2 separate regions of the Homo sapiens genome follow, and region 1 is linked to region 2. Evidence: fine-mapped expression QTL. Tissue or cell type: tibial artery. Region 2 holds a variant in brackets; the other region holds the start of a gene. All regions are shown on one strand. Distances are between the middles of the regions.

What was found. PIP is the estimated chance that this variant, and not a neighbour inherited with it, causes the effect.
Region 1: UMAD1 starts here. The variant in region 2 is fine-mapped to the expression of UMAD1 in tibial artery (GTEx, PIP above 0.99). The same link has a PIP of 0.9 or more in sigmoid colon, subcutaneous fat and whole blood.

The regions. Positions count from the first base shown.
Region 1 is chr7:7,637,249-7,645,614 of GRCh38, reverse strand. It overlaps UMAD1 (UBAP1-MVB12-associated (UMA) domain containing 1), which reads right to left and starts at 4,863. Exons shown (of 4, transcript NM_001302348.2): 1 at 4,794-4,863. It overlaps RPA3 (replication protein A3), which reads left to right. Exons shown (of 8, transcript NM_002947.5): 5 at 4,440-5,295; 6 at 6,471-6,545; 7 at 7,643-7,751. The coding sequence starts at 5,197. RefSeq lists enhancers at 4,403-4,572, 4,653-4,702, 4,743-4,942, 5,213-5,262, 5,633-5,682 and a silencer at 5,043-5,172.
Region 2 is chr7:7,874,304-7,882,669 of GRCh38, reverse strand. UMAD1 (UBAP1-MVB12-associated (UMA) domain containing 1) reads right to left here. Exons shown (of 4, transcript NM_001302348.2): 4 at 3,447-5,389. The coding sequence ends at 5,132. The region is part of intron 3 of LOC124901586 (a long non-coding RNA gene); the gene reads left to right. Among named protein-coding and RNA genes, the nearest start is that of GLCCI1-DT, 90 kb to the left of the region's middle. The variant C/T (reference allele first, on the strand shown) is at 4,724.

The DNA of each region.
Region 1 (8,366 bases), 240 kb after region 2:
AAAATTCCTTAATCTAATAAACAGAAATTCAAGTTGGGAAGGACTTCGGGGAATACTCCTTAAAGGAAGCTGAATGCGGGTCCACTTCTCTGCCACATAGAACGTGGATTTACTTGATAGCTGAAGCTCCATCACTTACCTGGCCTATGAGATAACCATAAATATGGAACTAGATATTGAATGTAGAACTACAGAAAGACAGAAAGAACCTGGGGCCCTGAGTCTTAGTGCACTACCACATAAGTACTAAGTTGCACAGCTGTGGACTTCTTTCACATGTGAGAATAAGCGTTTGTGCATTAAAGATACTTTTGTTTATGCAGCTAAACCCCATCTTGACTTAAACACTATTTCTATTCAAAATGGTACTGAAGGCTCTATCCTAGGCAAAAGGTAAGAAAGATAAATAAAATATGTAAGAATTCTTAAGAAACAAAACTATAATTATTCAAATATGAATAGAAAATTCCAAAAAAAACTGATAGAAAATTCTTAAAATGGCATTTCTATATACCAAAACAATCAGTTAAAATCTTTAATTTAAAAAATGATACCATTCATAATAGCAACAAAAACAAGGTATCTAGGAATAAATCTAAGCTAAAAGTCAAAACTTTTATGTAGAAAAGTATGAGACCTTTTGGAAAGATTTTAAGAGGACCAAAATGGCTCAAGGATAGTAAGAGTTGACATTCAGGTGTTACTTTTCCTGAAATACATCCAAGGATACAGTGCAATTTTGATCAAAATTCCAACACAGTTTTTCCTGGAAATTCATAAGCTACATTCTATACAGAAGAGCAAAGAGACAAAAATAACCAAGACATTCCCGAGAACACAGCCCCAGACATCAAAAGTTATGATAAGCTACACTATTAAAGAAAATAGGTAGTGGTTCAGGGATAGAAAAATAGATCCATAGAATAGAATTGACTCCACACATATCTGTAAACTTAAGGTGACAAGTGAAGGTGGCAAAAAGGTGATACAGTCAAATCACATTAGGACAACTGAAATTAAAACAAAACAGAGATTGGAGACTTATCTGACAACATACATGAAGAGTGAATTCTAGATGACGGACTATTAAATATGAAAGGCAAAACTCTAAACATTTTAGGAAAAATAGAATACCTTTAAGAGTACGATGTATCAAAGAATTCATAAATGAGATTTTAATGGACTTTTCTCCTACATTAAACTTAAGGGGGAAAATGTTTAACTATATTAAAAGAGGTCTTCCTAATAAAAAAAAAAAAAGGATGGAATGAAGGAAGGAAACGGAAAGATAGGCCAAAAACAGACAACACTTGTACCATTACAATATCTCACTAATAAAAAGCTCTTAAAAGTCAGTAAGAAAAAGAAAAATCAAGGAAAAAAAGATAAACATAAATAACCAATAAAAATCTGAAAAAATGTTCAAACTTTTCAGTAATCAGGGAGTGCAAATTAGGGTCACGACAAAAAAACACTTCATATCCATCAAATTGGGGGAAAAAACTCCAAGAGTTGCCAAGAATATACAATAACTGTAAACTGTCTTATACTCCAGGTAAGAGAGTAAACTGGTACCACCATTTGGGGAAATCATTTTTTTACTAGTGGCAGAGATCCAAGTTACCCCAAGTTACCGGTGGCCTATCCTCACGGGTCAGTAGCAACTTCAGTCCTTGCCTCCTCAGACGAAAAAATTTGACTGAGGGGCATAAAGCAGAAACAGAGACCCAGGCAAGTTCCAGAGCAGGAATGGAAGTTTACTTTAAAAGGCCTTAAAACAGGAAGAAAGGAAGGTGTGCTTGTTAGAGACCCAAGCGGGAATGTGAAGGTTAAAGAGAGTAGGTCAAGTGTCCGATTTAACCGTTGATCCTTTTTTTTTCGTTTGTTTGTTTTTTTTTTTTTTGAGAGGGAGTCTCGCTCTGTGGCCCAGGTTGGAGTGAAGTGGCGCGATCTCGGCTCACTGCAAGCTCCGCCTCTCGGGTTCACGCCATTCTCCTGCCTCAGCCTCCCGAGTAGCTGGGACTACAGGCCCCCGCCATCGCGCCTGGATACTTTTTTGTATATTTAGTAGAGACAGGGTTTCACCATGTTGACCAGGGTGGTCTTGAACTTCTGATCTGAGGTGATCCACCCGCTTCAGCCTCCCAAAGTGCTGGGATTACAGGCGTGAGCCACCGCGCCCGGCCCTGATCCTAGGACTTTTACAAGCTTGTCTATTTCCCATGATTCTTTCCTTAGGATAGGCTGCCGGCAGGCACAGAGCCCTCCTTAGCCTTGGGAAGTGTTTTTAGGGAGTTACATGCACGCCCATCTGAGGCTTCCTTCCTTTTTCCGGTGGAGTGTACCTGGAAGATCATACTTTACCATTTTTGTCTCTTAATATGCATGCCCAGGAAGCTGTTTCTCCCTCGGGTCTACATTCAATTAACATTTTGATAACAGGTGTGGACCATCAGGAAATGGCCTCTCCCTGGCGCTGCAGAATTATCATTTTTAGAGAAGCAAATTCGGTAATTGCCAAACCATCCCCCAACATTTCTAGTGGGTTGGGGGAGAGCCCACTACTGTCCCACTCATGCCTACCTGTAACAGAAAAAAAAATATGATCTACGTACATTCGTCAACATAGATGAATCTCAAAAACAAACAAAAGAAGTCAGAAGATACATACGTTTCTGTTTATATAAAGGTCAAAGACTGGCAATATTAAACAACATACCATTTAGCAACGCCTGCATGTGTGATAAAACCACCTAGAAAAGCTTAGGAAGCTTAACACAAATTTCAAGATAGTGTTTACTTATGGCTGTAGCAAGGAGGGCTTCATTGGGGAAGTGCAAACTGGTAAAATTTACTGGTAACTGGTAAAGTTCCATTTCTTCAGCTGAATGACAGGCCCCATGGATTCATTTCATTTCTCTCAAAACTATGCAAATCGGCTAGCTATACTTTTTTCTGTACATCATGTATTTTATAATATTTTAAGTGACTCAAAAATACACGAAAAAGCTGTTTTAAATTATCTTCCTGCTCATCTCCCTGTTTTAAAAGAAAGCCTTTGCTTAAAAGTGGTCTTTCTAACTGCAGGTAAACAACGACATTAACATCTGGTACTCACAGGAGTGCTCTTTAAAAAAAAAAAAAATCACTATTACAGGGTACGCACCAAGGCTCACACCTGTAATTCCAGTACTTTGGGAGGGAGACGGGGGAGGGAGGGATCGCCTGAGCCCAGGAGTTTGAGATAAGCCTGGTCAACATGGCGAGGCCCCATCTGAACAAAAAAAAACAAACAACAAAAAAAAAATCTTTATTAGCTGGGTGTGGTGGTATGTGCTTATAGTCCCAGCTACTTGGCAGGCTGAGGTGAGAGGATCGCTTAAGCCTACGAGTTAAAGGCTGCAGTGAGCTATGTGCATGCTACTGCACTCCAGTCTGGGTGACAGAGAGAGATCTTGCCTCAAAAAAAAATGCTATTAAAGACATTGATGTGTGTACTCTCCCCTATATAATGCACATCAACTTGCTTTGCAAAACAATGCTAAAGTACAAAAGACTTAAAGCTGTAATATAAAATAGACTTTACTGACTTGCACCAATACAACCACAACTTTTTTATACACCACTGACACACATTCTACATCTGTTTAATGAAATCCTTTAAAGTACCGTTAGTGAGTAAAACTAAGACAAACCTATTAAGTGCTAAGGAAACACTAAGGGAGACTATCATTTAATTATCGTACATGAGATTCCAATCTTAAATTGCCACGTGAAGTCTCAAATCGGATCTTTTTTGCTTAAGGGAATTTGAACGATGACAATTCTGTAGCTTTGGGCCAATTCACAGACTCAGTTTCCACAACGTTATAATACCCAATTAAAACTTCTGTCCAATTTCCACCGTACCGTTTGAAGGTATTTTTATGTGCACTCATTCTAGAATACTCCTGGCAAGGCCGCCGGCTTCGGGTCACAAGATGAGCCAGGGACAGATTGGAGACTACCCCCAAATCTCCCAGGAATCGGTTATCTTCCAGACCTCCAGATCGCCCTCCAGAGTCTCGCAGTGTGGAGGGCAACGACAGAAAGACTGCTGAGGGGGTTTAAACTGTTGAGTCAAACATATGGCCAAAAGTCAGAGTCAACTGGGACCTTGCAAATCATTCCGCCTAACCCTTCGTTTTGCAGATGGGGAAAACACGCCTCAGAAGGGAGAACCCTAGCTCGGGGAACCCTAGCTCGGGGTCTAACAACGATTTAAGCTTGTCTCCCCTAGTACTGGCCAGTGGTTCTTCCCCGTTACCCATCCTTAAGTGCTTCTATTGGCTGCCAACACGGAGGGGTTAGCGGGGTGAAAGAACCGGCGCCTCCGCAGTGTGGCCAGGTTGGGCTAAAAAACGTCTTAGAAGTAATCGGATCAATCTCTCTTCTTACAGGTGGAGAAAGTGGAGAAAGTAGAGTGACGCAGCTAAGGGAGTAAATCGACCCTCAGCCAACAAGTGGCAAAAGCCTGAAGAAAGTGATCAAGATCACTGATGACCCCGCTGCCCATCTCCAAGGGGGCGGGTATCACAACCCCGACGCCACACCACGTATCATTCCGCAAAACTCCCGCGCCTCCCACGCAGAACTGGCAAGAGGGAAGGCGAGACAGCAGTGAACAGCTGGTACGCAGCACCCACAGCACCGCGGCAGCAGCTAGTGCCGACTCCCGCCTAGCTCTTTTGACTCTGTTCGCGGGAAGAATGGGGAAACAGTAAGGTTGCGGCGCCTCCCGCGAGACGAGGTACCTGAGGCTGGCCCCGCAGTCCCCCGCCGCACCAGCACCGGAGCTTCACACCCCACTTCCGGGGTCAAGTCACCGCCGGGAATCCTGTGATCGCAGAAAGGTAGTCTCAGGTTCCGCCCCTATCCAAGTCCCGCCTCCACTGCCTCTCGCCCTGTATCTGTCAACTTCCGGGACGCCGCGCGTCACTAAGCAGCCAATCTCCACTTCCGGACTCATCCAGCCCCTTCTCCACCCCTTTCAGAGACAGCGCGATTGCGATTTAGGTTTCCGCGCATTTAATTGGCGAAGCTGGAGCGCTAGTCTTCGCTGATTGGTGCCGAGAAATCTGCCCCATAGACACCCGCGGGGCGCACAGTTTCAGTCGTCCGTGGGTTTCCCGCCAGCCGCAGTCTTGGACCATAATCATGGTGGACATGATGGACTTGCCCAGGTCGCGCATCAACGCCGGCATGCTAGCTCAATTCATCGACAAGCCTGTCTGCTTCGTAGGGAGGCTGGAAAAGGTGTGCGGGTTCGCAATCATGGGCTCCCAAGTCCGTAGCTGGAGGGAGGGACCCCGCCTGGATAACGGGGGATGAAAAAGGACGGAAAGCCTCCGATCACTGCGCCCCCGACTCCTTTATTTTGCACAAGGAACTTTTTGGAAATTCTTTAGCCGTTGTAGCCCCATTTTGGCGCTCTTTTATGGCACGGAAACAAAGTGTTTTCAAATGCTGAGTTCTAAATTCCAGTGCCCGTCGCCTCCGTTCTAGCCGTGCTTACGTAAGGGAAATTATAAACACCACTCCCACATCTACCTTCAGATTTCTTAGTTTACTCAGACGTGACGGACGCAGACAAAACTAATCTGCTGGTTTCCTTCTCTTCTGAAATTACTTATTTTTGCAAACCTCGTTTCCTCGTTGTGATCGCTTCTCTGTAAAACATGCCTTGGTTGTCCGCTTTGGGTCCCGTAGTAACGAGTTATTTAACCCCAGTATTAAAGTGAAGTTCCCTCATTCTACAGGCGAGAAACAGGCCCAAAGTCTTGGAATCAGTGACCTGAAAAGCTGAGGAAAAGAAAACTATTATATAAAGACTTATTTAGTAGCTCATTTCATCCACACATCCTCTTCCTTAAATGAGTGTTGCTCTGACTTCCCAAGTAGGGAAACTGAGTAGGAGTGGTAGGTGGTTGACTAAAATGCTCAGAAACTCGGCAAATGGCAAAGCTGGCATTCAAACGCAATCTGACAGCGCTCTTTACAGCTGCTTCCCAGGAGTAGGACCCAGATATTCTAGCAACCAGTTCTCCTTTTACTTCATCATGCCTGTTTTTTAAAACATACCCTCCGTGGGATATGTACTGTCTAAATCATGAGTGCCAGCAGATTTCACTTTTAGGGTGGGCATCCTTTAATTTGTTATCAGAATAGGGTTGCCATATTTAGCAAATACAGAACCTACTTAACACTACAAAAAAAATCCTTGTTTATCTGAAATTCAGAAATTAACTGTGTGTTCCATGAACAGATTTGATAACATAAGATTATAATTTGATCCAATAAGTTGAATAAACTGAATGAATAAACTGTTCAAGAAACAGTTGATTTGTGCTCAACTAAGGATCAATGTACTCATCTTTAGTCAAACTTTGTTGTTGTTTTAGTGAGATTTTAATTATATGTTTCGTTTTTAGATTCATCCCACCGGAAAAATGTTTATTCTTTCAGATGGAGAAGGAAAAAATGGAACCATCGAGTTGATGGAACCCGTATGTTTAAGTGTTAATAAGTCTCTTATATATTATAGTTAATTCTTCATCTTGATTTGGTTTGTTGCCGATGTTTCTAATTTTTGCAATGGATTTAAAAAGGATGAGCTGGTAAAACGTCCCTGGCTGTAAAATTTAATTCTTGTACTATTCTCTCATTATATTTCCTTTTACATTTTTAACCAATGATTTTTTGGGCGTCATGATTTTTGAACATATCCCATAAATGTTGGATAACAATTCTCATTCCTTATGAAAGACCATAAAATCACATAAGAAAAATTTACGTTGCTTTTTTCTTCCTCAAGAGGTTTTTTGTTTCGTTTTTGTTTTTTTGTTTTGAGACAGGGTCTCACTCTGTTACCCCGGGTGGAATGCAGTGGCACCATCATGGCGCACTGCAGCCTTAGCCTCCCAAGATCAAGTTGCTCCCATGTCAGCCTCCCCAGTAGCTGGGACTACAGGCATGCTTAACCATGCCTGGCTAATTTTTGTTTTGTTTTGTTTTGTTTTGTTTTGTTTTGTTTTTTGTAAAGATGGCATCTCCCTATGTTCCTCAGGCTGGTCTTGAACTCTCGGTCTCAAGCAATCCTCCTGCCTCGACCAGCCCCTCAAGAGTTTTCGATTTTATTTTATTTTCTATTTTTGTTCATATATTTCCAGTTTTTACTTATTTATGTTTGCATTTTATGTTTAACATACTTAAAACTTTTTTTGGTATTTTGTGAAGACAAATCCATATGCTGTTTGGTTAATGTATACAGAACACATTGTGAAATACAGATTATAGAAGATTCCTCTCATAGGATATTACTGCTTATAGAAATGCTGGACGTTTTCAATAGTGATTTTGTCTTTAACTTGAATTGTAGCTTTGGACTTGAAGCTACTGCTAAAGGTAGCAGGAATTTTAACATGCTGACAGTTAAGTACTCAAACATTTGTTAACAAGTTACATTTTAACTTTTACACTGGTAATTCTTAAAATTACTTTGTTACTTGAAGTGATAGATTAGTAACCTGTATAACAGTTTTCCAAAATAATTGTCAACTGAAAATGTGATATCACCAAATCGATGTCTTGTTCTGTGTCTTAGCTTGATGAAGAAATCTCTGGAATTGTGGAAGTGGTTGGAAGAGTAACCGCCAAGGCCACCATCTTGTGTACATCTTATGTCCAGTTTAAAGAAGATAGCCATCCTTTTGGTAAATAAAGCATTCTAGTATTGACTGGTTTTATGTAATTACATAACATACAGTTTTATATAACTGTATGTAATTACATAACATACAGTTTTATATAACTGTATGTAATTACATAACATACAGTTTTATATAACTGTATGTAATTACATAACATACAGTTTTATATAACTGTATGTAATTACATAACATACAGTTTTATATAACTATGTTTTAACATACATTTTGTATTACATACAAAATTGTATGTATTACATACAATTACATAACATAAACATACAGGAAAACAGTTTTATTTTTAGTTTGATATATATTGGTCTAGAGTTTTAGTACTGCCACATTTTCAATTTCTATAGAATTTTGTGATCGTAAAGGCAAATGGGGGTACATTTTGTTTTGGCCTGCTTTTAAGTAGTGCTTATATATGTAAGAAACTCAGTAAAGATTAATTAATGTTTGTTGAAAGATAATTTTTTTAAATATAACAAAAATAGTATTAGTTTTTTTGTTGTAATATCTGAATTGAAGGAATTGAATAATGCATAACACCCAAAACACTACCAGGCAGAAACTGCCTGTATAATGAACATCAAAATGGATGGTACTCCCATGTCTTTT
Region 2 (8,366 bases):
TTACTAAAAAAAAAAGTCCCACCTTTTATAGAGAAGAGCTCTTTGTATCATGAGTTGTCCTGATTATTTAAAGAGGAAATAATGACATTACAATCTCATTTCCATACCATTTGCTGAAGAATGACATTATTTATAAGATGCAACCATCTTTGGAATAAGGTAGGAAAAGGCCAGGTATCTATGAGGCCTCCACTTACAATGCAACACTGTTAGCCCTACAAAGGAAGGTCTGTGGTATATATAGTTATTTGTGGCAAGCTAAGGAGATACATGCCTGACATTAACAGGAAGATAAATTTTGAGGAAACCATAGAATATACTATCGTATCCAACATAAAATGGTATTCATCTGCACCATGTAAAATGTTCCAAATTTTATCGACTTTCATAAAAATGTAAATATGTCTCTTGGATAGCACTGATTAAGACTTGGAAAAAGATTGAAGATTCCTGAGTTCATACTAATATAAATAATTGATAAATAAATTGGGGAAAAGAGACAAATCTCTCATGCAGAAGAATTCCAAATAATTTATGTGATAGTTGCCTTTCAAGGAGGTGGAGTTTAATTACCCACTCGTTGAGTGTGGGCTGTGCTTTGTGATTTAATTCCAAAGAGTATAGAAAGGTTGGGGGGAATAACTTTTGCAGTGGAGAAACCTGAGAAGCACTACTTTGGCCAGGTATTCAAAGTCAGCATCATCAGTAATAAGTCATGTCTATAGCTTATACTACTCTCAATACGATATAATCTCACTGAAGGGGGTATCACCTTTTTAATATTTCTCCAAAAACCGATATCCCTAGTCTAACCATGTGAAAACATCAGATAAACCCCACTTGAGAAATATTCTACAAAATACTTAACCAGTACTCCTCAAAACTGTCAAGGTCATCAAAAATAAAAAGTCTGAGAAACTGTTGAAGCCAAGAGGTGCCTAAGGAGATATGACGACTAAATAAATGTAATGTGCTATCCCAGGTAGGCTGCTGAAGGAGAAAAAGGACATTAGAGGAAAACTATGAAATCTGAACGGGGTGTGCAGTGTAGTTAATTGCAATGTACCGGTGTTGATTCCTCGGTTGTGACAAATGTACTGCAGTTACGTGACATGTCAACAACAGGGGAAACTAAGTGAGGGGTATGTGGGAACTCTCTGTAGTACCTTCATAATTTTTCTGTGAATCTAAAACTATTCCAAAATAAAAAGTTTATTTAAATTTTTAAAAGACTGACATATTGTCACATCGACTGAAACAGAGTTCCCTGCGTCAATCAATACCTCTTTCTCTCTTTCCCACACACGCCTATCTGCCAAACCATATGGCAAAAAGAGTCCTTTTCCTGAAACATAAGAATACTTAATCCTTCAAGCCACTGTAGTATGAATGGAATTGGACTTATTCTGAAAGTTTTAGATTTCCCAATAATACCTAGGTCATGCCCTCAGTAATATGGGACAAATGCTCAAAAGAGAATGTCAATAAACCTGTATTTCCCAAAAACTTTAAAAGATAAACCATCCTTCAACTGCATTTCCAATAAACTTATATTTTGTGTGAGTTATTGACATAATTAATAAGATAACGCACTAATCTCTGAAAGAAACATATTCTTTGCTAGATTACTGAGGGCAGTGTTCACTTATTGATCAATTGTTACCATGGGAGGCACAGAGGTAGTCTGATGTACTACGGTTTCAGAACATGAGTGAGATTCTTTCCTTGCTTCTCCTTATCTGTCATTTAGAATTATGAGAAATGAAATCTCTGGGAATTTTAGAAGAATTTTTTCATACTGTTTTGAATTTACCATTTTTCTTTAAGAGAAGAAAAAAATAAGTGTTGACGTCAATGAATATTTACCTTAAAAAACTATTACGGATTTGATTTGCAATTGTTAATAAAAATTGTGGCTTTGTTAACATTTTAATGGTACAATTTTAAAAGTTCAGTTGATCAAAATTTAATTAGCCAGGATAATAAATTGGTCAGAATCGCCTCTCTCATTCTGTTTTTAGGAAAGAATGCAAATGTCTTTAAAGAAAGCTTGGGAAAAAAATACATGCAAGTTCTTGAATATATTTTAGGGCTAAAAATAAGATTCAAGGCTGGGCACAGTGGCTCATGCCTGTAATCCCAGCAATTTGGGAGGCCTAGGCGGGTGGATCATCTCAGGAGTTCGAGACCAGCCTAGTCAACATGGTGAAGCCCTGTATCTACTAAAAAAAAAAAAAAAAAAAATTAGGCATGGTGGCAGGCACCTGTAATCGCAGCTACTTGGGAGGCTGAGGCAAGAGAATCGCTTGAACCCAGGAGGAGGAGGTTGCAGTGAGCCGAGATCATGCCATTGCATTCCAGCCTGGGTGACAAGAGCAAAACTCTGTCACAAATAAATAAATAAGATTCAGTAAAATCACCTGCACATTCCATATCTATAGTACTTTGCAACAATAACATATATTAGGAAAAAGACTGTAATAACGAGAAAAAGAAAAAAATGTTCACTATGGAATTCTTAGTTAAGGCAGAACAGTCAACTAACATATTTTAGGAATATTTCTCATAGTAAGGTATTTAATATGGAAAAAAATAACTGGGAAGGAGGGGGATCTACAGTTAACGTAGGTAGCTGTTTTATTTATGTTACTCTTCAAGAAGTTCAATTAATATGTATTTTGCATTTCATTATAGTATTGTGTGTGTATGGTCAATAACGAGAATTATAACAATCCCTTTCCCAGAATACCGATGATGTGCAAGGCTTTAGGCTGCCAGGCATTTGACATACACCACCTATAACTTAACACAACGCTACAAGTTATGAACAATTAGTGTTTCACAATTGAGAGAACTGAGGGCACCAGAAGTTAGGGGACTGATTGAAAGCCCCACAGCTTATAAAGGAGGGAGCCATTACAAACTCTGTCTGGCTGCCTCAATTGCCTGAACTCTCTCCCACCATATCATACAGCTTTGTTATCATATATTATAATTACTAACACTATTAAAGTAGGCATTTATTTATCACTAAGTGATTTAAGTCATTTAGTCTTTCTAGGCTTCAATTTTATCTTGGGTAAAATGAAGTTGACGTATTGATTTCTAATGTTTCATAGAAATATTAATTTATATACAGAATAAAAAATTAAATGGTAATTTTCACAATATTTTTGTTTAAAGAAGAAGATCATTAACATTGGCCCTTACTAAATGTTGTGATGATGGTATCAATCTAGAAATGCTCATGTCATCTCTCTCAAATCCCTCCAGTCCTGTTAAGCCAGGACTAGGGATCTTACCATTTTTAATGTTATTCCTTAAAACTTACATGTAAGAGGAAATCGTATATTTTTCCCAGCACTATACAAACTATATACTTAAACTTTTTGGCTCCTAAAGAATTAACAACTTGCATTCAGATATAAATAATGCAATCAAACCCATTTTTCTGGATCTGAAAATAATCAAAAATTTTATTTTAATTCACATTTATTTAAATATAACATTTTTTATAGACACATGAAGGTACTTATGAACATTTATAACATGGTAGGCACAAATATAGATGAAATGTTTAGGTATTTTCGACAAAATTTCACACAAAATTAGACAAACTGACTATGTGCTTGCATTTAATTTCAAGGGTACATTAACACAGATATTTGAAAAGGATGTTCTTTTACAAAACTACTACAAAATGTTCACGTTTGCATCAGTAATAAGTCATATTTCCTAGACTGATGCTTTGTAAGAACTATGTAAAGATCTAATTTAATCATTAACACCATATGGTAACATTATATGTAAATGAAGCATATTTTTGTCAATAGAAATGTTCCTCTAACTTTTAAATAACATAGCATTTGTATTAAAACCATGCCACATTTATTAAACAAACATGCATAATACTTTAAAACTGGAATAATTCATGTACCTTTATGCACAGTGTTTAGTTTCACTATGGCACTCTATCTTTGTGAAAAAATATACTTAAAACTTGGCACAGAGTTAACAAATCATATTGCTGGTAATCAAAATAAATGTGATTTCAATTTCCCATGACATAGAAAATTCTCTATCACAATTTACCTCTTCCCTTTACAGTTTATTGACCAATGGCAGTTCTGTTTTCATTAAAGTAAGTAATGGATATTCAAGAACTAAAAGTCATATCTAGGTGTTCTGCCTATACTCTAATTGGAAATGAGTTGATTTCAGTTTTTCCAGCAGTAAAACATTTCCATCTCTATTGTGGCCAACAAATTTCTAAATAAGGGTGTTATCAGCAATAATATGTATCATCATGAGATGTTTTTCTTCAGGAGGCAGAGGGGTTGAAAGGAAATGTGGATCTCTTCATAAACTGGGAACATATGTGGTAAGGAGAGCAAATGGCAACCGAGGCAGAAGCAGGGAAAGTTCTTTGGAAAGCTGGTCAGAGAGCACACTGAAGTAGCAAAAAGGCAGAGAACAAAGGTGGGAACACAACGATTATTCACGATGGAAAGGGCTGCCATGGGTTTCAGAAAACCGAAATGGGCCACTCCAGAAAGAGCACGCAGAGCAGGTCTAGCATCCTTGTATCAGCAAACTAGCACTGCTGTTTAGGACAAGTTTTAAATTTCCACATCAATGCATCTGAAGAAATTAAGCTAACTGGCAACTTTTTTTCTGAATTCATTCATAAACACTGTGGAAGAAAAAAATGCAGGAATAACAC[C/T]AATTCAACTTCCTACAAACCAGAGAGGAGACTTCACACCCACTTCTTGCTCAGACTTCGGAGCTGTAGTGACTGAAAAATGCCACAATTCTTTTTCACAGTTCTTCTAAGATAAATTTGAGGTGTTATATTTTGAGAGACCATCTGAAGGAATCGAGTCCTTTCCTAAAACCTTCATAGCCTAATTTGTATATTTATTATATGGGAGAAAGGAAGTAGAACTTAAGTTCAATTTGTATACAAATGTACCTTTTTCTTAAAAATAGAGTAGTGAACATAATGCTATTTTCTTTGCTTTATGATCCTTGCTGAGGACCTTAAACAGTGAAACGGCAAAGAACATCAAACAGGTTAGATAAAATAGGCGAACATATTTTAAAGCTGTTAAGGTGCAAACAGACATAAAGGTTATGAATCACAGAGCACTGAATTTTCAAGAGTGAAATCATACCAAAACCGTGATAAGTTTTCGCTGCCATCATAGGAGAGTAAGTGGTCGGGAAGGTCAGTGATGGTGCCCTGTACTGCCAGCACATGCGGGGCCAGGGTGAACGGCACATCGCTCAGGAGCTCGGCCATTAATGAGCTGTTCTCCAGAGTCTGGCCTGCCTTATTTTCCATCTCAGGGTCTGATACAGTCACACTGGATGAATTTTCTTTGTTGGTCTAAAAATACATACATTTAAAACATTTAGGCCTTGTGAACTTTGAGGTTGAATAACGGTAAATGTGGCATTAATACATCAAAATGATTGAGCAATGTGGGCTATATAAATATTCCCAGATTTGAACGCAGCTCTTTACTTTACTTTAGAATTACATTCATCCAAATCTCTGTTAGGCTTTAAAATGAATCCTAAACTTTAACTCAGACTGACCACCCACAGACCCCTTAAACACAAACTGGCCTTCTTGTTATTTCCCTTGCTCAGATAATGTCTGCAAATTCTGTCTCCGCTTTTCCAAATCCTATGTACGTTTTCAGGCTCTGCTAAATTCTCAGCTGCCCTATAAAATCTTGTATCAATGGAGTACAAAGTGATCTTGCCTATTTCAGAATGCTTATGGGGCAAATTGCCTAAGATGTTATTTGGTGTTGCCTATATGTGTCCTTGCAAATTGCTGTTCCATATGCAAATATATCTTATCTCCAACTAGACTATAGGGTCCTTGAAGGCAAGCAGTCTATCTGGCATATCTTTGTATTTTCAACCTTGCACACTTTACTATTTGACAGTAATATATATGTACTCATAATTTATCTCTAATGTATACCATGAGTACTGATTGTCTGATTGTCATTGGAACTAACCTGTTATGTCATAAAAGTTACGCAATTTTTTAAAAAAGGATATATCTTGTTCAATTTCTTTACAATTAATATGTCTTGCAAATCACCTAAATATCAATCAATAGAAGAATGGATAATAAACTGAAATTTATTTACAGCAATGAAGATGAATGGCCTGCCACTACAAGCACCTGGAACCTAACTCAAACCAGCCTGGGCAAAAAAATGACTCCCCCCTTGACCCTCAATCTCAGGCAGAATGAAACTCCCAAGTCTTTACAGAGGCCTACTAGCTCCTTCGCCATCTGGCTCCAGGTGTGCTTCTGCCCTCATCTCCAGCTCGTGTGCCCTGGCCTATTCCTCTTCAATCCCACTGTCTCCTTGCTAGTGCTCCTTGCAAGTGCTTGCTCGTGCACACCGAGCCTGCTTCTGCCTCAGGGCCTTTGCTTTCCATTCCCTCAGACCAGGACGCTCTTCTCCCAGACATACACAGGGCTACTTCCCTTATCTCCTTCCAAGCGCTAGCCCAGATGCCATCTCAATGAGGCCTTTTCTCACTTATATAAAACTTACTTTTACGTGGTTTTTGTTTGTTATTTTTTTGAGACAGAGTCTCGCTCTGTCACCCAGGCTGGGGCGCAGTGCGTGATCCTGGCTCACTGTATCCTCCCTGTCTCAGCCTCCCAAGTAGCTAGGACTATAGGAGCATGCCACCATGCTTGGCTAATTTTTGTATTTTTTTGTACAGACAGGATTTCACTATGTTGCCCAAGCTGGTTTTGAACTCCTGGACTCAAGCGATCTGCCTGCCTCCCAAAATGCTGGGATTACAGGCATGAGCCACTGCACCCAGCCAAGAAGCTTTTGTAGCTCATGTTCACTGCTGTATTCCACATGCCTAGATCAGTGCCTACTGCTCAATAAAGATTTATTGGGCTTTTTGTGGTTGGCAGGCTATTAATTACTGCCTCAATTTCACAACTTGTTATTGGTCTATTCAGGGATTCGACTTCTTCCTGCTTTAGTGTTGGAAGGGTGTATGTGTCCAGGAATTTATCCATTTCTTCTAGATTTTCTAGCTTATTTGCATAGAGGTGTTTATAGTATTCTCTGATGGTAGTTTGTATTTCTGTGGGATCAGTGGTGATATCCTCTTTATCATTTTTTATTGTGTCTATTTGATTCTTCTCTCTTTTCATCTTTACTAGTCTGGTTAATGGTCCATCTATTTTGTTAATCTTTCAAAAAACCAGCTCCTGGATTCATTGATTTTTTTGAAGGGTTTTTCATGTCTCTATCTCCTTCGCTTCTGCTCTGATCTTAGTTATTTCTTGCCTTCTGCTAGCTTATGAATTTGTTTGCTCTTGCTTCTCTAGTTCTTTTAATTGTTATGTTAGATGTCGATTTTAGATCTTTCCTGCTTTCTCCCGTGGGCATTTAGTGCTATAAATTTCCCTCTACACACTGCTTTAGCTGTGTCCCAGAGATTCTGGTACGTTGTGTCTTTGGTTATAAATGCTAATGGTTATAAATGCTGACAAATTCTTAGACTGTAAGTCTAAAGGAGAAGAATAATTTTCTGGGCCGGGCACGGTGGCTCACGCCTGTAATCCCAGCACTTTGGGAGGTTAAGGTGGGCAGATCACCTGAGGTCGGGAGTTCGAGACCAGCCTGACCAACATGGAGAAACCCCGTCTGTACTAAAAATACAAAATACTTCATAAGGGTGTAACTTGCTAAATTTTTACAAACTGAATACACATGAGCAACCAGCGCCCAGATCAGGAAATAGAAAAGACCAGCCCCCAGAAGCCCTCCTGGTGTTCTCTTGCAGTCACAATCAACCCCCGTCCTGTCAATCACTATCCTTATTTCTAACAACACAGAATTGGTTTTACCTGGTTTTGTTTTTTAATTAATTAATTTATTTATGTATTATTTTGAGACAGAGTTTTGCTCTTGTCACCCAGGCTGGAATGTCCAGCTACTTTTTGTATTTTTAGTAGAAACAGGGTTTCACCATGTTGGCTAGGCTGGTCTCGAACTCTTGAGCTCAGGTGATCCACCCTCCTCAGCCTCCCAAAGTGCTGGGATTACAGGCGTGAGCCACTGTGCCCGGCCTGATTTTGTATTTTAAATGAATGCAATCATACAGTATGAACTCTTGCTTCTGGCTTCTTTTACTCAACATTATGTGGATGAGATTCATCTAAATTGTTGCATGTTAGATGAAAAAAATCTTGAAGAACATATTGTTGGAAAGGTGATATATTCTGACTGATGTTTTAAAATAATCACCCTGGTTGCTGGGTTGACAGCAGATAGTAGAGGTGGGGTGGCCGGGGAAAGAAG